2 separate regions of the Homo sapiens genome follow, and region 1 is linked to region 2. Evidence: fine-mapped expression QTL. A gene starts in region 2. The other region holds a variant in brackets. All regions are shown on one strand. Distances are from middle to middle.

Region 1 (5,394 bases), 36 kb after region 2:
GAGATCAAGAAGGTCTCCTGTCCCTTAGCTTCTCTGACCAAGGATAAACATCTTGGCAGCTAAATCTGCCAACATAACATATTTCTACCACTAGCTGATTCCCCCAGGAATTGCATCTACTTAACATTCCTTCCTCATACTCACAGCTGCTGGATTACCAGACAAGTTTCTGACCATGGTCAGTGGTTGTGGGTTCTTCTTTCCAGCAACCCTATTTGGTCACTTTGTCCCAGAACTCCTTAGTTTTCACTCCATAAATTATAGGACTGAGCATTGGAGGTACAAGGAAGTAAAGGTTGCCAAGAATGATGTGGACATGGGGTGGAATGCCTTGGCCAAAGCGGTGAGCGAGAAAAGAGAAAAGTGAGGGAGTATAAGAAATAAGCATGACACAGATGTGTGTGGTGCAGGTGTTGACTGCTTTGTGGTGGGCTTCCTTAGAAGAGAGATGCATTATAGCCTGGATGATTAGCACATAAGATGAAGCAATAGCTGAGAGATCCAGCCAGCAACCAACAAGGCCACCACCAGGCCATATATCCTGTTGACTGTAGTATCTACACAAACCATCTTCACCACAGCCATGTGCTCACAGGAGGTGGTGGGGATGACACGATTGGCATGATAGGGCATTTGCTGAAGGAGGATGGGCATGGGGAGAATAAAGAGGATAGCTCTCACCAAACTCACTAAGCCAATGAGTCCAGTGCAACTATTGGAAAGGATGGTGGCATAGCGCAAGGGCTTGCAGATGGCCACATAGTGGTCAAAGGCCATGGTCATCAGGACAGCTGACTGCATGGCAGAGATGGAGTGGATGAAGAACAGCTGAACCAGGCATCCTTCATAGCTGATCTCACTCTGGCCAAACCAGAAAATGCACAGCACCTTGGGAATGGTGGTTGTAGACATGCCCAGGTCTGTGAGGGCCAACAGACAGAGGAGCAGGAACATGGGTTTGTGCAGGGAGCGCTCTGTGGAGATGGTGAGGAGGATGGTGCAGTTCCCAAGCACCATAACGAAATACATGGAGGAGAAGGGGATAGATATCCATCTGTGTTTGTCCTCCATGCCAGGAATTCCTTGGAGAATGAAGAAAGAAGGGTGGCCCTGTGAGGCATTGCAAGCAGTCATGGTGGCACCCTGCCGAAGTACTTGTGGAGAACAACAAAGAGGCTACATGAGCTTCAATTTAAAAAAAGAGCTTCAACATGGAAAACAAAGATCGAAATGTTATACACACAAATGATTCTGAAATCATGACGCTATGTATCATAGGGTATAGTTGTAATAGTACAGTAGCAATAATGAAGTATAACTTCATTCATATCCAAGAGGATATATTTTATGCTAAATGTTTTTATTAAGGACAAAATGATTCATTATTAATAAAATATTAAATAAATTTTAATATATTAAGAAATAAACATGTATCAACTTAAAGAACAGAACTTGAAGTATGTACAGCAAAAATGCATGGCATACAAAGAGGAGCTGACAAAATGCAATATACTCCTTTCGGAAACCAAAAGATGAAATGTATTCAACACAACAGATTTTTTTTTAATTAAGATGACTTAAAAGCTTATAGTAGAATTATGCATCCAAAAATTAAAGAATACACATTTTCAGCAGATACAGGATATGAGGGAGTGGGAACCTTATTGATGAGAATGGTGCAATGATGATGAAGAATGAAGTGGGCAATGGGGTGCTGGACAGCTGAGGCTCACCAGAATATGAACATAAAGCCCACCCTCATCAAGAACACTTACCTGAAAGAGAGGCAGTGAGAGGATAGGCAGCTGGTCCCAGACACATTCTGAGAATGTGTATGTGTGAGTGTGTACATAGGTATGTAGGTATATCTTAAACACCCATATGACTCTTGGAGAGCACACCCGTGGCCTTGCATCTCTCCATACTTCACTTCTGGGCACCCAGAATCCACGGTGTGGTCTTTTAAGTAACCTAAGTAAAGGCCCTCAGGGTGCCCAGCATTAGCTCTTTGCTTACTTCTGCCAACCCCAACCTTCCACCTCCCAAAAGACAAGGCACAACTATTATTATGTGTAAAACTGACCCTGGAGGTTGCCTGAGCTCCCAAGAGATGAGGATAATTAGTCTTAGGAATTCAGGAAATGTTCCAGACTTTGCCAATCTTGGAGGAGTTTGAAGAGAGAGAGGGTGAAGATAAAACTGAATCAATGGATGGATGGATAAATAAGCAAACTGTGGAGTATATGTAGAATGCGAATATTGTTCAGGCTTAAAAAAGGAGGATATCCTGCCATTTGACGTAACATAAATGGACCCGGAGGAGATGATACTGAATTAAATAAGCCCATCACAGAGAGACAAATACCACATGACCTCACTTACATGTGAAATTTGGAAAAACGGGGGGTCAAACATATAGAGAATAAAACGATTACCAGGGTCGGGGTCACAGAGAGGAAATAGAGATATTAGTCAAAAGATACAAAATAGCAAACATGCAGAATGAACAAGTCAAAACACCTAATGTACAACATGGGCACTATAGTTAATAACAGTATATTGTATCAGGATTTTTGTTGAATGAGTAGATTGTAGCTGCTTTCGCTACATGAGGAAAAATGGATAACTATGTGAGATGATGAATATGTTAATTTGTTCCACTACAGTGGAACATATATATACTACAGATATAGATATGTTATAACATCGTGTTGTATACCTTAAATATACACAATAAAATTTATTTTTAAAACAAAGTTGAATCTGATAACTAGATTGGGGACTAGCAGTTTTGGCATTCTTTTTTTTTTCTGTAAAAAGAAAACAATCCAATTTTTATTTTTTTTTATTATTATTATACTTTAAATTTTAGGGTACATGTGCACAATGTGCAGGTTAGTTACATATGTATACATGTGCCATGCTGGTGTGCTGCACCCACTAACTCGTCATTTAGCATTAGGT[A/G]TATCACCTAATGCTATCCCTCCCCCCTCCCCCCACCCCACAACAGTCCCCAGAGTGTGATGTTCCCCTTCCTGTGTCCATGTGTTTTCGTTGTTCAATTCCCACCTATGAGTGAGAATATGCGGTGTTTGGTTTTTTGTCCTTGCGATAGTTTACTGAGAATGATGATTTCCAATTTCATCCATGTCCCTACAAAGGACATGAACTCATCATTTTTTATGGCTGCATAGTATTCCATGGTGTAGATGTGCCACATTTGCTTAATCCAGTCTATCATTGTTGGACATTTGGCTTGGTTCCAAGTCTTTGCTGTTGTGAATAGTGCCGCAATAAACATATGTGTGCATGTGTCTTTATAGCAGCATGATTTATAGTCATTTGGGTATATACCCAGTAATGGGATGGCTGGGTCAAATGGTATTTCTAGTTCTAGATCCCTGAGGAATCGCCACACTGACTTCCACAATGGTTGAACTAGTTTACAGTTCAGTACCGTAAACTACTGTTTCAGTACTGTTTACTACTGTAAACAGTACTGTAAACTACTGTTTCAGTACTGTTTACCAACAGTGTAAAAGTGTTCCTGTTTCTCCACATCCTCTCCAGCACCTGTTGTTTCCTGACTTTTTAATGATTGCCATTCTCACTGGTGTGAGATGGTATCTCATTGTGGTTTTGATTTGCATTTCTCTGATGGCCAGTGATGGTGAGCAATTTTTTCATGTGTTTTTTGGCTGCATAAATGTCTTCTTTTGAGAAGTGCCTGTTCATGTCCTTCGCCCACTTTTTAATGGGGTTGTTTGTTTTTTTCTTGTAAATTTGTTTGAGTTCATTGTAGATTCTGGATATTAGCCCTTTGTCAGATGAGTAGGTTGCAAAAATTTTCTCCCATTTTGTAGGTTGCCTGTTCACTCTGATGGTAGTTTCTTTTGCTGTGCAGAAGCTCTTTAGTTTAATTAGATCCCATTTGTCAATTTTGGCTTTTGTTGCCATTGCTTTTGGTGTTTTAGACATGAAGTCCTTGCCCATGCCTATGTCCTGAATGGTACTGCCTAGGTTTTCTTCTAGGGTTTTTATGGTTTTAGGTCTAACGTTTAAGTCTTTAATCCATCTTGAATTGATTTTTGTATAAGGTGTAAGGAAGGGATCCAGTTTCAGCTTTCTACATCTGTCTAGCCAGTTTTCCCAGCACCATTTATTAAATAGGGAATCCTTTCCCCATTGCTTGTTTTTCTCAGGTTTGTCAAAGATCAGATAGTTGCAGATATGTGGCGTTATTTCTGAGGGCTCTGTTCTGTTCCATTGGTCTATATCTCTGTTTTGGTACCAGTACCATGCTGTTTTGGTTACTGTAGCCTTGTAGTATAGTTTGAAATCAGGTAGCGTGATGCTTCCAGCTTTGTTCTTTTGGCTTAGGATTGAGACTTGGCGATGTGGGCTCTTTTTTGGTTCCATATGAACTTTAAAGTAGTTTTTTCCAATTCTGTGAAGAAAGTCATTGGTAGCTTGATGGGGATGGCATTGAATCTATAAATTACTTTGGGCAGTATGGCCATTGTCACAATATTGATTCTTCCTACCCATGAGCATGGAATGTTCTTCCATTTGTTTGTGTCCTCTTTTATTTCATTGGGCAGTGTTTTGTAGTTCTCCTTGAAGAGGTCCTTCATGTCCCTTGTAAGTTGGATTCCTAAGTATTTTATTCTCTTTGAAGCAATTGTGAATGGGAGTTCACTCATGATTTGGCTCTCTGTTTGTCTGTCGTTGGTGTATAAGAATGCTTGTGATTTTTGTACATTGATTTTGTATCCTGAGACTTTACTGAAGTTGCTTATCAGCTTAAGGAGATTTTGGGCTGAGACAGTGGGGTTTTCTAGATATACAATCATGTCATCTGCAAACAGGGACAATTTGACTTCCTCTTTTCCTAATTGAATACCCTTTATTTCCTTTTCCTGCCTAATTGCCCTGACCAGAACTTCCAACAATATGTTGAATAGGAGTGGTGAGAGAGGGCATCCCTGTCTTGTGCCAGTTTTCAAAGGGAATGCTTCCAGTTTTTACCCATTCAGTATGATATTGGCTGTGGGTTTGTCATACATAGCTCTTATTATTTTGAGATACGACCCATCAATACCTAATTTATTGAGAGTTTTTAGCATGAAGGTTGTTGAATTTTGTCAAAGGCCTTTTCTGCATCTATTGAGATAATCATGTGGTTTTTGTCTTTGGTTCTGTTTATATGCTGGATTACATTTACTGATTTGCATATATTGAACCAGCCTTGCATCCCAGGGATGAAGCCCACTCAGTCATGGTGTATAAGCTTTTTGATGTGCTGCTGGATTCGGTTTGCCAGTATTTTATTGAGGATATTTACATCAATGTTCATCAAGGATATTGGTCTAAAATTCTCTTTTTTGGTTGTGT
Region 2 (5,394 bases):
TCTCTTTCCAGGCTCTGTGCTTTTTAAAAAGCCCCTTTAAAGAAAACGAAATATCCAATTATTCTGTTGTGAAATAATTATGTGACCTATTCAGCCTAATAATATTTTAGCTAGATGCTTAGAGACTTAAAACTCATTTTAGACTTTATGGCATGCACTCTAGATTCTCCTTCAGGAAAATGTCATTGAAGAAACAGGTTTTTGGTAGTTATGAGAAATATATAGCACATGTTTTCTAGACAAAAGTAATAACTGGCTATTAATCTGAAATATTAATCTGAAAATTGTGATCATTGAAAAGAAGACTCACATCATCTCCTTCTACTTAGATTTGTCTTTTCATAAAAAATGGACTCATTAGGTTTTGTCGAATAAAATATGGTTTAATTATTAGACTGGTCCTTCACATGAGTGAGAAGGTAAAAAATTTATAGAAATGTTGGTGGGCCTTCCAATGATGTTGAGATTCCCAAGGTACTTATTGAGAATGCACCAGTTAACAAACTCCATTTTGTGATCAATACAGTGCTTCCAGAAAGATTTTATGAACTCCTGCATAAGAGGCAAATAGAAGTAATTCTTTCCTTCTCTTCTCACTCCTGGCAAGTGTTCATTCACATGCTGTAGGATTTGGTATCCTTAGAACCTGAAAGGATCCTTATGACACAGTCTCGTATCTGTTTGGTTTTCACCCCATAGACAATAGGGTTCATAGTGGGTGGTAGGAGCAGATAAATATTGGCTACAATGATGTGGCAAGAAGGGGGGATTATGTGTTCCCCAAAGCGGTGGGAAAAGAAGGAGAAGAAAGCTGGAGTATAGGAGAAAACAATGGCACAAATGTGGGCAGTGCAGGTATTAAAGGCCTTCTGCCGAGCATCTGCTGAGGAGAGGCTGACCACTGCCCGGAGAATCATGGTATAGGAGTTGGTGATACACAGTATGTCAAAGCCCCAAATCAGGAGGGCAACCATCAGACCATAGATGGCATTGACCTTGACATTACCACAGGACAATTTGGCTACAGACATGTGGTCACAGTAGGTATGGGGAAGTATATTGCCTCTGCAGTAGGGCAGGAGCTTGGTGAGGAAAGTAAAGGGAATAATGAGTAATACCCCTCTCAGGAAGGTGGCAGTCCCAACCTTTGCAATTACAGGATTGGTGAGGATAGTTGAATAGCGTAAGGGGTAGCAGATGGCCACATAGCGATCCAGGGCCATAAGCATAAGCACCCCAGACTCCATCCCTGTGAAGGTGTGGGTGAAGAACATCTGGACAAGGCATTCATCAAATCCAATGTCCTTGAGATGAAACCAGAAGATGCAGAGGGCTTTAGGGATTGTACTAGAGCACATAACAAGGTCAGTAAAGGAAAGCATGGCCAAGAAGTAGTACATGGGTTTGTGCAGGGCATCCTCATAGTGAATGAGGTAGAGGAGTCCACAATTCCCTACCATAGCCACAACATACATAGAGCAGAATGGGAAGGAAATCCAGAGTTGTGTGTCTTCCAGTCCTGGGACTCCATTCAGAATAAATGAAGCTGGTATTAGGTCTGTTTTATTCAGTGTTAGCATGATAAGTCTGGTAGGTTATGAAATAGCTCAAAATTTGTCTGGGCTTTCCTAGAGTTAAAAAAAAAAACAAGAGAAAATATAGGTTATTTTTACTGTCTCCCTCTCCCCCAACTTTTAAAAATTCCATAATGCATTTTAATGGTCCAACAACCAAATTTCTGAGTGCCAAGAAATAATTTTGTTTGTCTGTTTAGTTTTATTGATTGATTAATTAATTGATTCAGTAAAAAATTCTTATTGAGCAGTCTAAGTTTTCAACACAGATGCCAATCAAACATCAATTATTTTATAAAAAGACATATTCCCAATCTCATAGATTTATAATCAAGTATAATTCTGACTTTTCAAATGGTATTTTTATTAGAATATCTTACTTAACTATAACTATACTCATCTCAATATAGATATAATTTTAAAGAAGAGTCATTTGATTACCTCACTGATGATCTGAGAGATGAGATGTTGACTTTTTAATTTTTATTCTTAATGACTGACTGATATTTATTCTTGGGTACTCAGGCACTGTTCAAAGAATTTTGAAATTTTAATTAAATTATTACTCAATGAAGCTTGGGGTCTCAAAAATTAGTAAATTTATTGGGTGTCTATACTCAATAATAATTTAATTGTATATTTTAAAATAACTAAAATAATATAATTGGGTTGTCTGTAACACAAAGGATAAATGTTTGAGATGATGGATACCCCTATTTACTTTACTGGGATTTTTTTTTTTTTTTTTTTTTTTTTTTGAGGCAGAGTCTTGCTTTGTTGCCCAGGCTGGAGTGCAGTGGCGCAATCTTGGCTGCAACCTCCACCTCCCGGATTCAAGCAATTCTCCTGTCTTAGCCTCCCGAGTAGCTGCGACTACAGGCACATGCCACCACGCCCAGCTAATTTTTGTATTTTTAGCAGAGATGGGGTTTCACTATATTGGTCAGGTTGGTCTCCAACTCCTGACCTCAGGTAATCCACCCACATCAGGCTCCCAAAGTGCTGGGATTACAGGCATGAGCCACTGTGCCCGGCCCTTTAAAAGGGATTATTACACATTGTATGCTTCTATCAAAATATCTCATACACCCATAAATATATACACCTACTATGTGCCCACAAAAATTTAAAATTAAAAAAGTCAATGAAGTTTTGATTCAATTTTTTCACTTTTCAAGATATCTTTCTTGTTCTTTATGTATCTAGTCAACGCAAACTAGAAGATATCCAAATGCATACATACAGAAAATATATAAAGTACTTCAACAACATCAGTAAGAAAAAGTTGCAGGAAGAAACATACACTTCAAAAGAGAAATAAAATTGCCAATGAACAGGTAAATAGGCACAAACTTTTATATTAATCAGAAAAATAAGTAAAAATTGTATCTCTCATGACAAAGCACCTTTTTTTGGTATGTAGTGACATACCAAACAGGACAGCTAAAATGAAAAGAACTAAAAATACCAAGCATTGGCAAAGATGTAGAACAACTGGAACTCTCATTTACTGCTGGTAGACATGTAAATTAGAACAACTCTTTATTAGATATCTCATAATGATAAACATACACATGACCACCATTGCCATTTCCAACAAAACTATGTATATATATTTACTAGAATACATCAATTAGAATGCTTATTGAAACATGATTTGTAGTATAGCCTAAAACTGGAAAAAACCTAAATGTTCATCAACATCAAATGGGTAAATAAATTTTGGTACATTCCCACAATGAAATACCACGTAACAATAAGAATAAACAATCTATGACTATATGCATAATATAGACGAATCTCACAATATGTGTTAATTTTTTTTAGAAAGACTTAAAATAGATGTAACATCTTGTGATCTTTAAATGAAATACAAAAACGGATCAAATTATTCTGTGCTATTAGAAATAGAAAAATCTTTTTAAAAAGTGAGAGAGAGTGATAACTGAAAGGCAGTATGTGGTAGAAGGGTCCTGTTAGTTGCTGGTCATATTCCCTTACTTGATTTGGTTGTGAGATATACAAGATTCAGGTTGTAAAAATCAATCAACATGTAATTGGATTAATTGTAAAATTGCATATGTATGTTAGAATTTATAATAACAAAAATTAAATTGCCAAGAGGATTAAAGGACGTAATATGTTAAAACATGCTACCACATTTTAAGTGCTCAATACCCATATTTGTATTTTCTACTCAGGCTGGCAGCCATTTTGGCAATGCTTACAAAAATTAACACCATAGGAATCATGAGTGCCACCAAATGAACTCTCTTTTGTGCCCCATCAGAGGAGGTATTCATCCTAACCTCCATTAATAAAATACACTGTTTTAAGATTAGCATCTGATAGGAAGTACAGTCACATGTTCTGCCTTATTGGGTAAGATGAAGAGGACAGATCAGATTTATCAAAAGGCAACTTGTTTTGAAAATAGTAGAAAAACACAGGTTAAACTTGTTAATAGGCATGCTCCTCAAAGATATGTACTCAAGTCATTACAAAATGTCAGAGTTATACTGGGTGTCATAGGAGCACCTGTGTGTCTAACCTAGCCTCAGGAGATGCTCCTAGAGAAGAGGACAGATGCTTCCAGACCTGGAGCATGATTAGAATTCTGACAGGTCAAAGTGGTAGGAACAGCATTTTCTTCTGTTGCTGTTTGCTGTTTCCTACTCATATCGCACTGACATTCTCAGCTTTGTGATAGGCAAACCTCTATCTCCTTGGTGCTCCCTTTGCCCACTCCCCTCAAATGTAGCTAATCCCTATACATTCTTCAAGCAGAACCATCATCAGGAGGTCTCAAATGTCCTTTGGACATGATAGCGACCCATCCTTTAAATTATTTTAAGATAATGTAGCTACCAATAGCCTTGACTAGGGGTAAGAAATTGATTTGTTCAAACAATTATTCTCTTTAATAATATTTCCCTCATGATATTATGAAAATCAACTTATATTTAGGAATTCTCCAAAATTCAGTGAAATCACCGATGTAAGGACAGTGTCTGGTAAAGCATCCTCAGAGCCGAGCAAATCAAATCTCTCATATTAGATACTCAATAAATGTCAATTTTAAAATAAATAAACAAATAAGTAAATGAAAAAGTGAATGACTCACCCGAAACACTTTATTTTGATAATTATTAAATTATAATCTAAGTATTATTAGATTGGTGCAAACATAATTGCGGTTTTTACCATTAAAAGTAATGGCAAAGCCACAATTCCTTTTGCACCAACCTAATATTACTTGGAATGTATAAAAGAAACCACTAGAAGGAAAAAAAAGAGAAAGTTTTACTTAAGATTACTAGAAAAGCTAAACAACATAAGGCATCTCTCTCATAAAGTAGAGAAACAGAGAATACAAAGTGGAAAAAAAAAGATGACAAAGGCAGAACAAACATTGGTTTTGGATATAAAAATAATTTAAACTTCCCATCAAGTTGAAATAATTCCAACTAATTTTTAAAAATTATATATGCAGTATAAGATTTCATCAGAATGAAAATTATACACAAAGGTTTAAAAATATATACAAACATAATATTTTTAGATAAACAGTATACCTCATACTTAGGATATACTAATACTAGAAAAAAGAATTCAAAGCTAAAACACTCAAGTCAAGATCACTTTGAGAAGACAAAACGCTTAGCATTGTGTAATTAAAGGTAATTGTACCAAATTGTTTTTTTTCCAAGTTTGATAAGGTTTTTCTATAACACAAATAACGAAAAGCACTTAAATTCACATTCTCACTTTGTTGATATGGAGGGACAATGTTAATATGAGGACCTCCCAAAGTTACACT

Which allele goes with the higher level. Positions count from the first base shown, and alleles are read on the strand shown. Sizes are in standard deviations (SD) of each study's normalised expression.
With allele A in place of G in region 1, the expression in stomach of the gene that starts at base 2,078 in region 2 is lower (moderate effect, 0.62 SD a copy in GTEx).

Evidence for each region. PIP is the estimated chance that this variant, and not a neighbour inherited with it, causes the effect.
Region 1: its variant is fine-mapped to the expression of OR52N4 in stomach (GTEx, PIP 0.94).

What each region holds. Positions count from the first base shown.
Region 1 is chr11:5,715,030-5,720,423 of GRCh38, reverse strand. It overlaps the pseudogene OR52U1P. Among named protein-coding and RNA genes, the nearest start is that of OR56B1, 19 kb to the left of the region's middle. The variant A/G (reference allele first, on the strand shown) is at 2,965.
Region 2 is chr11:5,750,927-5,756,320 of GRCh38, reverse strand. It overlaps OR52N4 (olfactory receptor family 52 subfamily N member 4), which reads right to left and starts at 2,078. Exons shown (of 2, transcript NM_001005175.5): 1 at 2,016-2,078; 2 at 363-1,628. The coding sequence starts at 1,580. The coding sequence ends at 615.